Homo sapiens: one gene and its partners. The gene in region 2 interacts genetically with the main gene of each other region. Each region holds a gene or a part of one and is shown on either strand. Other genes may lie near its edges.

Evidence for each region.
Region 1: changes in MED23 (region 2) and NDUFB1 together harm fitness more than expected from each alone (negative genetic interaction), as found in Homo sapiens cells (one large-scale study listed by BioGRID).
Region 3: changes in MED23 (region 2) and COX16 together harm fitness more than expected from each alone (negative genetic interaction), as found in Homo sapiens cells (one large-scale study listed by BioGRID).

What each region holds. Positions count from the first base shown.
Region 1 is NC_000014.9:92,119,607-92,123,206, reverse strand, and holds the start of NDUFB1 (NADH dehydrogenase [ubiquinone] 1 beta subcomplex subunit 1), read left to right. Parts: upstream 1-1,500; 5' UTR 1,501-1,565; intron 1,566-1,807; exon of another isoform or gene 1,808-2,011; intron 2,012-3,600. UniProt on the Homo sapiens protein: Accessory subunit of the mitochondrial membrane respiratory chain NADH dehydrogenase (Complex I) that is believed not to be involved in catalysis. Complex I functions in the transfer of electrons from NADH to the respiratory chain.
Region 2 is NC_000006.12:131,600,635-131,604,363, forward strand, and holds part of MED23 (mediator of RNA polymerase II transcription subunit 23), read right to left. Parts: intron 3,687-3,729; coding exon 3,544-3,686; intron 2,571-3,543; coding exon 2,396-2,570; intron 1,748-2,395; coding exon 1,584-1,747; intron 1-1,583. UniProt on the Homo sapiens protein: Required for transcriptional activation subsequent to the assembly of the pre-initiation complex. Component of the Mediator complex, a coactivator involved in the regulated transcription of nearly all RNA polymerase II-dependent genes.
Region 3 is NC_000014.9:70,324,917-70,328,745, forward strand, and holds the end of COX16 (cytochrome c oxidase assembly protein COX16 homolog, mitochondrial isoform 1 precursor), read right to left. Parts: intron 1,534-3,829; coding exon 1,417-1,533; 3' UTR 165-1,416; downstream 1-164. Other genes in the region: SYNJ2BP-COX16 protein, read right to left, coding at 1,417-1,533.

The DNA of each region.
Region 1 (3,600 bases), on a different chromosome or scaffold from region 2:
CAGTGAGCCGAGAATCGTGCCACTGCACTCCAGCCTGGGCGACAGAGCGAGATTCCTTCTCAAAAATAAAAAATAATTACCGTGCATGTTGATGACAACTAAGGTGAACTAAGCAAAATCCAAGGGAAAACAGAGGAGTTTGGGTTAGCCCTGGAGCTCACTGAGTGGGGAAGGCTCTTCTCGGTCAGTTGAGGGAGAGCCCCAGTTTCATACTGGGGTTGCAAGGCCGGGCATGGTGGCTCACGCCTGGAATCCCAGCACAGGCCAAAATGGGAGGATCTCTTGAGCCCAGGAGTTCGACACCGGCCTGGGCAACATAGTGAAACCCCGTCTTTATTAAAAAAAAAAAAAAAGAAAGAAAAAAGAAAGGGGTTAAAGGGGTTGTAAAATTAAAAATTAGGGGATGGGTATAAATGATAGCTCAGGTTCGCCTGGTCACAGGAAGCCAGACTTGCCGGGGTTCAATCTGACCTCTTCTTTTCTAAAGAGCACGTAAAATAGTACGAAGTCAAAAAAGAATTAGAACTTCGCAGTGATAGTGGAAGCGCTGGAGGGCGATGGCGGGAGGGCGCGAAGGCCCAAGACCCTTTTAGTACAGTGTGGTACAAACAACCGAAAGGTCTCTGGAGTCGAAGAACTAAAAGGACGCCTAAGCGGTGTCCAGAGCTTAGCAACCTCGTGGTCTCTCAACCCAAAACGACGGGAAGAGCCCGAGCAGGGGAGGCTAAGAACGCCGTAGCCACGAAGCCAAGGAGCTAAAGCTGGCGTCGGTTTAACTCTTCCAGCGCCAAGAGATGAAAGGGGAAGCAGAGGGAAGCAGAAAGGAGGGAAGAAGATCCCGGGAGGGAACCGTACGGGCTGCCGCAAAACAGCTGGGAGCTTGAAACCCATGGAGAAGTCACTTCTCTTTCCCTCGCTGACCACTTCTGCCGGGAACGACCGGGACAGTCGCAGCCGAAGCGGCGGGGGCGAGTCCTCGGGGGAGACCGGGTCGGAGTCGGGGCCCCGTGCTCCCGGAGGGCCAATGACGCCGCCTTCCCCAGCCCGAGGCTCGCTCCTTTCTCCCGCCCTCACTTGCCTCGTCAGGCCTCCCCCAACGCCGTCCACAGCCCTTCCCAACCCCTAGGCGAATCCAGGTTCAAGACGTAGAAAAGCCGATGCTGGGTCAGCAGCGCCAGGGACTACCGGCCGGCAGAAGCCCCACAGTGGCAGCCGCCATTTTGGAGCTGGAGACTAGCGGCGGAGACGAGGAGGAACCAGGGCGAGACCATCTCCGGGGGGTGGGCACGGTGCTGTCGGAAGGCGACGGCGGTCACGCCTGCACGCCTCGTCTGTCTGGAGCGAAATTTTATTCAGAAATTATTGGTAATGTTTGGAAGCTAAAAAAAAAAAAAATGAGAGGAGTCAACCCTGAGGAGGAAAAAGTAGTATGATTTGCTGGCGTCACCCCTCTGCTCCGTGCGGGCGCGGCGAATGGCAGGTCCCGAGGTCGCAGCTTCCACTGGCGCGGGTTGAGTTCCCTGTTGCCCTTGGTCTCGGGGTCGCTGTAGGCGCTGAGGCTGCAGGTGGGTTTGGGGAGCCCGGGGGGCCGCCGCGACGAGGATCACGGCGACGGTGGCGGGGAGGGTTCTAGGCAAGCCCTCGGTGCTGTGCATGTGTGGAGGGGTGGTCTGGGCTTCCCCGGGGCTTCCGAACGAAGGTGACGGGAAAGGAAAATGGGGTTTTCTTCGGGTGGAGGATGGGATTTCCGGGCCGGAGCTTTTGGAAAGGGTTTTCTGAGGCTGTCATAACAGGAAAACGTCCGTAGAGATGTGACCCAGTGACCGCCCGCTAACCGGACTGGAGAGAAGACCGGCCCGGATCCCACGCCTGGCCTGAAGCAGGGAAGACGCTGCCTCCCCTCCGCGAGCAGCTTACATTCGTCCAAGTTCCAGCCTTCTGTCTTCTCGCTAACCTCGCTCTCTTCCAAATCGCAAATCCTCTTGAGCCGACACCGTTGCGCCTAAATGATGTGCTTACCCTTTTACTTTGCTTTTTTATTTTTGAGACAGAGATTCACTCTTGTCACCCAGGCTGGAGTGCAATGGTGCAATCTCGGCTCACTCCAACCTCCGCCTCCCGGGTTCAAGCGATTCTCCCGTCTCAGCAGCCCAAGTAGCTGGGATTACAGGCGCCCGCCACCACACCCGGCTAATTTTTTGTATATTTAGTAGAGACGAGGGTTTCACTATGTTGGCCAGGCTGGTCTCGAACTCCTGATCTCGTGATCCACCCGCCTCAGCATCCCAAAGTGCTGGGATTACAGGCGTGAGCCACTGCACCTGGCCCACCTTGCCTTTTAAAAGACAAAAGTATGGCCAGGCTTAGTGGCTCACGCCTGTAATCCCAACACTTTGGAAGGCCGAGGTGGCCGGATCAAGAGGTCAGGAGTTTGAGACCAGCCCGGCCAACAGTGAAACCCCATCTCTACTTAAAAATACAAAAATTAGCCGGGCGTGGTGGCACCTGCCTATAGTCCCAGCTACTCGGAAGGCTGAGGCAAGAAAATCACTTGAACGGCCGGGCGCGGTGGCTCACGCCTGTAATCCCAGCACTTTGGGAGGCCTAGGCGGGCGGACCACCTGAGGTTGGGAATTCAAGACCAGCCTGACCAACATGGAGAAACCTCGTCTCTACCAAAAATACAAAATTAGCTGGGCATGGTGGCGCATACCTGTAATCCCAGCTACTTGGGAGGCTGAGGTAGGAGAATCCCTTGAATCCGAGAGGCAGAGGTTGCTGTGAGCCAAGATTGCGCCATTGCACTCCGGCCTAGGCAACAAGAGCGAAACTTCGTCTCAAAATAAAAAAAAAAAAAGGAAAGAAAAAAGTATGAATTGTATAAGCATGCCAGTGTAAGAGGAGAGGCAGAAATTCAGTCTACATAGTCCTAGCACAGCTTAGTGCTAAGCACTTTTGTTGGCAATAATGTATTGTCTTTCTAGGATGTTGTCATATGTCTTCTTAGTCATTGTACATGATTTATTAGTTTAGTCCAAACGCACACAGGTGTATTTTGAATTCATCTGTATGCACGAATTTTTACAGAAAATTGGCAATCCAACTATGTTTTTATTGAATTGTGCAATTTATTTTCCACATGATGTCTATTACAGGTTCAGTATCCCTGATCAGAATGTTGGAAATCCAAAATGCCCCCATATGTGAAACTTGGGGCCACAAGTTTGAGACCAGCCTGGGCAACATAGCAAGATCTTGTCTCTACAAAAAAAAATGTTTAAAGAATTTTTTTAAATTAGCACCCGTAGCTCCAGCTTCTCAGAAGATTGAGGTGGGAAGATCACTTGAGCTCAGGAGTTCAAGACTGCAGTGGACTATTATAACTCCACTGCACTCCATCCTAGGTGACAGAGCGAGACTATTTAAAAAAAAAAAAAAGTTTCATATAAGATTACCTTCAGGCTATGTGTATAAGGTATATATAAAACACAAATGAATTTTATGTTTTAATTCGGTCCTATCCCCAAGATAGCTCATTATGTGCATGCAAATATTTCAAAATCAAAAAATCGAAAACACTTCGGGTCCCAAGCATTTCGG
Region 2 (3,729 bases):
CCAATAACTATCTCTTTAAAACATCAGTTCTCAAGTGTGGTCTGTAGACCTCTTGGGGATTCCCCAATAGCCCTTCAAAGATTCAATGAGGTCAAATAATAATAAAAAGATATCAGGCTTTTTCACTTGGTATGAGCACTGACGGTACAAAAGCAATGGTGGTAAAACTGCTGGTCCTAAGCACAAATCAAACAGTGGTGCCAGACTAGATGAAAAGGCTTTGTATTCTCCAGCACATGCACTCAGTGAAAGAAAAGTGCCAGTGTCAATCTCGACACCTATTTTTAACATCATATGTAACAAAAGGGGAAGCATATGCCTAGTGTTCCAAGTTTGATGGGTGTCTTGAGGAAAAACACTTGTGCACTTGTGTGACTGACTGAGCACTGAGTTAAATCAGCTGCTTTTTTTTTTTTGAATTCCAATTTTACTTGAAAGAACGTCTGACAGAAAACTATAGCTAGCTAGACTTACGTATTTAGCAGACATTTTCTTGAAAATTAACAAAATGAGCTTGTCACTTTAAGGAAAACAAATGATAGTAACTTTTTCCAATGATAAAATTTGACCTTTCAAGTAAAAATTGAAATTTTGGAAAACCTGTATCTACCACGACATGATAGCATTCCAAAACTTAGATTTTTCTAATAAACTTTGCAGTGATATTAACAAATGTAATTTTCTGATACTGTATAAACAAAATGTCAACGTTTGCTAGATCTACGTAACTCAGTGAACCAGTATTTTCAAAATGAATAATTCATGAAGTTACAAAACATGCATGGATTTAAAAATCCACTAAATGTATAAAACAGATGTACAGATTATAATGTAACAAAGTACATGAAGTTTACTGGGGGTTTTGGATTCCATATTGCAGCTAACCTTTAAGCAACTATCATTTTTCCATGTGATGTCAAAGAACATTCCCAATTATCTGAAAAAGCTATTAAAATACTCCTCTCTTTCCAACCTCATCTGTGTGAGGCCACATTTTTCACTTACTTCAACTAAAACTTCAATGGATTAAATGTCTAAGCAGATGAGAATCCAAACTATGTCTTCCTTTACACCAGATATTAGAGAAGCAAAAATGTCAAACAATGGCACCTCTTCTCACTAAAGTTTTGCTTTAGAAAATATACTTTTTTTATAACATCATATATTAACATGTAATGTTTATTATTGCTATTTAAAAACAAATTAATAAATATTTTTAAACTTCTTAATTTTAATATCTAATATAATAAATATCCATAGATATAATCCATATAAACAGAAACTCTTTGGGAATTTCAATTTTGTTTTTAAGAGTGTAAAGCAGTCCTGAGACCAAAAAGCTTAAAGTATTACTACTTTAAAATTATGGATAGCTGAAAACGATGCTCAACGCAGTTATTAATAGAATGATGGTACACAAAAGAGCTTCCATAAATGAGTGAAATAGTGAAGATATCAAAACAACAGGCTTTTTTCAAACAAATGAAAAGTATCTTTTTAGTATGTTACAACTATAGTAATTAGTAGAATCATGGCACACTTTAATTCATCTGTTGTTGTTTGTAGTCACATATTCACCGTACCTGTTACATGAGTTGCTCTAGCCAAGGTCAATATCAAGGCTCGGTTCAGTTCTTCAGATTCTGCTGAGAGCACTGTTTTGGGATCACTAAGGAAGCGTGTAAACTGCGGTTGTACCTCTGAGCTACCTAATGCTGTTATAAGCCTGAGAGCAGTGCTCTCGACACTGAAAATTGGGAGAATAAAAAGAAATGTAAAAAAATTTCAGAATTATGGAATTAAATCTAAGGTTAATTACAATGGAAAAACATGCAATCTATGACTATCCCTTCTTTAAAAAAACACTTTTGTGTGAGAATAAATGTTGCTTAATTTGTTTAAAAAACCTAATGTGTCCAATTTTATAGTGAAAATCGTGACTTTTTACACATTTGAAAAAGATGGCTTGTCGCCTATAGGACTAAAAAATTTCACCTGGAGATACTGCATTTCAAAAATTATATTTTTCTATCTAAAATATATTTTAATGTAAAGCAAAATCAATGTGACATGATACTTTAACCATAATCTGAAGTATACTTAAAACCAGCATTCTAAAGGGCTAAGTTACAACATAATAATAAATACCCTGGAAGTACTAATTCTCAGTCCAAAGATCCTGAAGGAAGGACTCAACTATCTTAATCAGTTTCTATTTAAAAAGCTGGACTCTGCTCCTATACTGGAAACAAAATACTTTAGAAGCAGAGAAGTTTTATGACAGATGAATAATAATAAAAAAAAAAACTATAAGGTAAAGGTAAAGGATTAAGAACCTCATCTCCAAGAAAGTTTCTAATAAATCTTAAGGAAAGATGGTCTTCAATGAGCTCACCAAAGATGGAGCTGGTTCTGGTTTGTTTGTGCAACTGCAGCCAAAGTATGAAGATGACTCAGGAGCTGAACTCTGTAATGAGGCTGAATATGATGCATCCGGTAGCTAAACATCTCAAGGAGTGTGTGTAAGATCCCCCATGCATGTGATTTGAAAACAGTTGGCAAAAGCTGACCTGGAGGAAAAAGACAATTTAAGGTACCAATTATTAAAGGCTATGCATGAAAAGATATTTGAAGAAAGTCACATTGAGTAAAATATAAAGATTTGATTGTGAAAATACACACGCCCACACACATATATATTCTCCATATTTTCTTATTTTCTACTTTAACAGTAAGGAAAAATTCAGATCCTAACTATAATATCAAGTTTGCTTTTTTCCTGGGATTTGGCAATTGATAATCATGTTTATCTGGAAAAATAAAATGAGACAAGATATGAAAAAACATTAATCTTCTCAATTCTGATATCTTTTATTTTTAGACAATTAATGTTCCATACCTTTTGAAGTATGAGGTTCACTTTTTAATACAAAAAATTGTATTATACCTGCCCTTGTTTCCTCCTACCCCCAAGAAAGTTTTGTTCAACAATCAGTTATCTAAGAAGAGTTATTGTGGTTAAAATTAAGACTATGCTGTATTCGTGAAAAGCTGGAATTACCATGAATCAGAAAAACACTTCTATATCAGAAAGTATCTATTATTTTAGAACTATATAATAAATGAGACATTATAATGTATCTTCTGCAAGGTAGGAAAATTCCTTCTTTATTTCCAGTCAGACTTCGTATGCACTGGAGGACAGCATTGCTGCCTCAGGCAGAATCCATTTGCATGAGGACAGGGACCAGGTCTATCCTGCTCACTGCATCCCAGGCACCTAGCACATTAACCTTTTCTTACCACTTTACTTAAAAATGCAACAAACCCCCCAACCCTCACACTTCCTATTCCTTTTTGCTTTATTTTTCTCTATAACATGTATCATCTGACATATTGTATATTTCATTTATTTAATGTCCTCCTCCATAAGCTCCATCATGGTGGTGACTTGTTCTCTGCTGTGTCCCCAGGACCTAGAAAAGTAACTTTAGAGTTAATGAATGGGTTAATAGTTATAAACACCAGAAAGTCCTGTCTTACTGATAAATCCTTTGATGCCCAAAGACTCTATTTCCATATAGACCAATAAACGACTGTAAGTTTCCACTAGGGCTGGAGCCAAGGCCACACTGGACTTTGCATGAGCAAGTTTTATCACCCTGGTTGCAATGCTGTGAATAAGGCTGAGGAGAAAAAAAGGGAAGAAAATAAAAATCCATATTTTTG
Region 3 (3,829 bases), on a different chromosome or scaffold from region 2:
AAAAGTTTTATACTTTTATGTTTTACATTTAAATCAATGATCCTTTTTTGAGTTACTTGTTTAATGAGTGAATAATAAGTGGAGACTTTTTTTCTCTGAAATCCAATTGCTCCCCCAGATAACTATCTTATGAATCATGTCTATCACAAATTATCACTAGATAATCAACTTAATTTACTTTTTATTAAAACCAACCTGCTGAAAAGAATACAAATTTTGACTAGGAGGAGAAAGGGGGAGTGGATTTATGATTTTATGGCAATTATAACAGGAGTGTTTCAATGGAGACTTTAGGCAACTAGAACTCAGCATGAAACCAGAAGGTAGAAGCTGATAAAGGCAGGGGTAAAAAGGAGAAAATGAGTTCAAAACAACTAACTTTCGGCCAGGCGTGGTGGCTCACACCTGTAATCCCAGCAATTTGTGAGGCCGAGGTGGGCGGATCACAAGGTCAGGAGATGGAGACCATCCTGGCTAACGTGGTGAAACCCCATCTCTACTAAATACAAAAAATTAGCCGGGTGTGACAGCATGTGCCTGTAGTCCCAGCTACTCAGGATGCTGAGGCAGGAGAATGGTGTGAACCCGGGAAGCAGAGCTTGCAGTGAGCAGAGATCGTGCCCCTGCACTCCAGCCTGGGCGAACAGAGCGAGACTATGTCTCAAAACAAAACAAAAACACTAGAGGGCAATTTTGCATGCAAATTATGCTAAGGCATAATTTTTAGTATTATCTTAGTATTTCTCAAAATGTAGTCATCTATGGATTTACTGAACAAATTTGCCATATCTGCTTATAATCATACACTACTTCATAATTTTTGACAACCATAAATAATATAATTTCCTTGACATGTTAATGGTATCATTGTAATTATCATGTGATGCTTTGGAGACTGATTATCATACTATGTGAGGCATTACAAAGAAAATCAAGACTCTTAGCAGACTGTGATCATTTTTCTTTCCCTAATAGATATGAGAGAAAATTACTGCTTGATTTTACTGTGAGAATTTGGATCCAGACCTACTGTCCTCATTAGGAATCAGAAATCAGAGAATCAGAAATCAGAATGAAATATCAAAATGATGCCCTAATGGCTATTGCAAAAGGAATATGTGGGTAGTTGGAGAGTGGAATACGTGACTCTGTTTTTGGAGCAGTATTCACATTTTTTATTTCGAGGTGTAAAATATACGTGGCCAACATTGTTACTTTCATCCACAGATGGAATAGCTGGGAAGTATAAAAACCTGTACATGACCTTTAGTGAAGATTATTTGTCATCAAATTACCCATATCCAAGTTTCCATGGGCCTGGAATTTCCTTTCCACTTGATAGAAGTATATATTAGGAAGTCCAGTTAATAATATTTTTATTTAAAAAAAAAAAAAAGGAAAAAAGAATCAGCAGAGTCAAGTTGTCTTAGTCTTAAGGCTTTCTGGATTTCTTCCTTGGAGGAGGTCAGGATCTTCCCAAGGCCTGGGTCCTCGAATATTCTTCCAGTCATCAAACTTGGAGTCTTTGATTTTCTATAGAACCACAAAAAATTAAAGTATAAATATTAGTATAAGAGCCTGTGGCTTTGATTAGGACACAACTAACTCAATGAATAAATGAGTAGAAAGTATCCGATAGGTCCTCGATTACAACTGTAGCAAATAAATCAACTACAATCATTGATGAAATGTCATCTTAAGATTTAGAACTTTTCATTTGTTACTGATGTTAATGCCTATCTTACGCCACCTTAACCGTAAAACTATTAAAATAGAGAAAGAGTCTACATGCCTTATTTTTGAGAGGACAAGGAAAAGGCTGAAGCTGGGAAAACAAAAGTACAAATCTGAAGGCTGATCCAGCACAGTGACTGAAAGGGTTATCAGGGATGATGGTAGAAAATAAGAAGAAAAGAACAAAGGGTGGAGACCCTAAAGTCTTCTACAAAAAAGAAAAGAGACCAAGATCATTTGTCTTACGCCTGGGCTTAGGAATGAAAAGACTTTCCTACAGCTATCTATCATAAGCAAAACACTTTTGGGCAACTGAAACTAACTGCAACTACATTATGGATCATCCTACCTTCATTTAGTCTGAAGTACCTCTCAAGCACAAAAATAGTTGGAATAAAAGGGAAGAAATAAATGTTTCTTCACCTTTCTCCTACTGACCACCACTCTGACATTAACTTTTACATATCTGCTGTTTTGGTTGTTCTGAAATAATTGAGTAAGATGGAAAAAAAAAGCTGTGAAAACATAGGATAGCTTATATCCAGAGACAGGGAAAATGGAATAAATTTACCTTGACACTTGGATACTAAGCATTACTCTCTTACTAACTAGCTATATAACCTTTGGAAAGTAATTTAAGCCACCTGGGCATTAACTCTCTCATAAGTAACAATGAAAAGGTTGGACCAAATACTCTACATTTGAGAGTCTTCAGCTCTCAAATTCTACAGGTCCTAGAAGAACTAGAAGGAAAATCTACTCCCAGACAAACTCTTCATAGCATCATTACTGGTATAGCACTTGTAGAACTACAAGTTAGCAAGTTACAGGATTTTTTTTTTTAATCAATGGGAAAGTAGTAAATGAAAATACTGTTCACTTATAGTTTTACCAGGAGTCTGTATTACATATATACATGAAGGAACAAAATTCAACTAATTTAGCATACAAGAAGAATTTAGATTATTTCATAAGTATAGTTATGAAATGATCTAAAGTTATTAAAAGATTTTAATAAAGAATAATGGCCATTATCCAGGTAACGTAAGATATGTATGCTTAACAGAACTGAAGAAAATTCTTAAATAACAAGTTCATGTAAAAGTAGTCTAGCCTTTACAGATCTTTGGTGAAGGAGATTCCTTGTAGAATTCTACAAAACGTGCACAGTGGCTGAAGAATGGGCTATGTAAATGTGCTGAGAAAAACCACCCAAGACATAACACTTCACAGCCAACTGGTATAGGCCTGAGTGTGGAACAGCGTCAAGAAATGCTGAGAAAAAACAGTGTCAAGAATATGGAGTTTCCAGGCCTGCCAGAGTGGAGACCTTTCTTTTAACATTTTGTTGCTACCCTGACATCCACCTAAGACACCAAAAGGACTGTTCTTCAGGAGTAAAAATTATGCCTGAGAATAAGATTTTTTTTTTTTTTTTTTTTTTTTTGAGACGGAGTCTCGTTCTGTCACCCAGGCTGGAGTGCAGTGGCGCGATAAGATTTTCTTTAGACTCACCCCAACAAAGCTTAAAGCCAAGCCTTGACAAGATTCTCTGGGGAGATAGTCTGGAGATTGAGTCCCAACAAGGGAGAAGGGCCAAGGAAAGATAGCTAGCCCTTCAACAGATACTTCCCTACAAAGCACAAAATGAAGTTTAAGGTGATTAGCTAACAATTAAATTGTCAAAATAAAAATCAACACTCTTCAGAATTTTCTTCAGTGTATTATTCACAATGACTACCTTTCAATACAAAATGACCAGACATATACAAAGAAACAGGAAAATATAATCCAGTCAAAAAAATGACAAACTCAAAGACATGAAGAACATCCTCACCACATCCCATAATATAGCGTGCTGTTAAACTCCTTGATTTTTGCTAATTAGATGGGTGAAAAGTGATACCTCGTTAGACTTTGACATTCCTATTATGATAAATTGAGCATCTCTTCATATGTTTAAGAATGATACTTATTTCCTTTTGTCCAAAAGTTTTACATGCTATGCTTTCCCATGTTCTTACTGAACAAATGAATTGTTGAACTTTTTCACATTGATTTGGAGATGGTCTTCATATTTAAGTAAATTAATGTG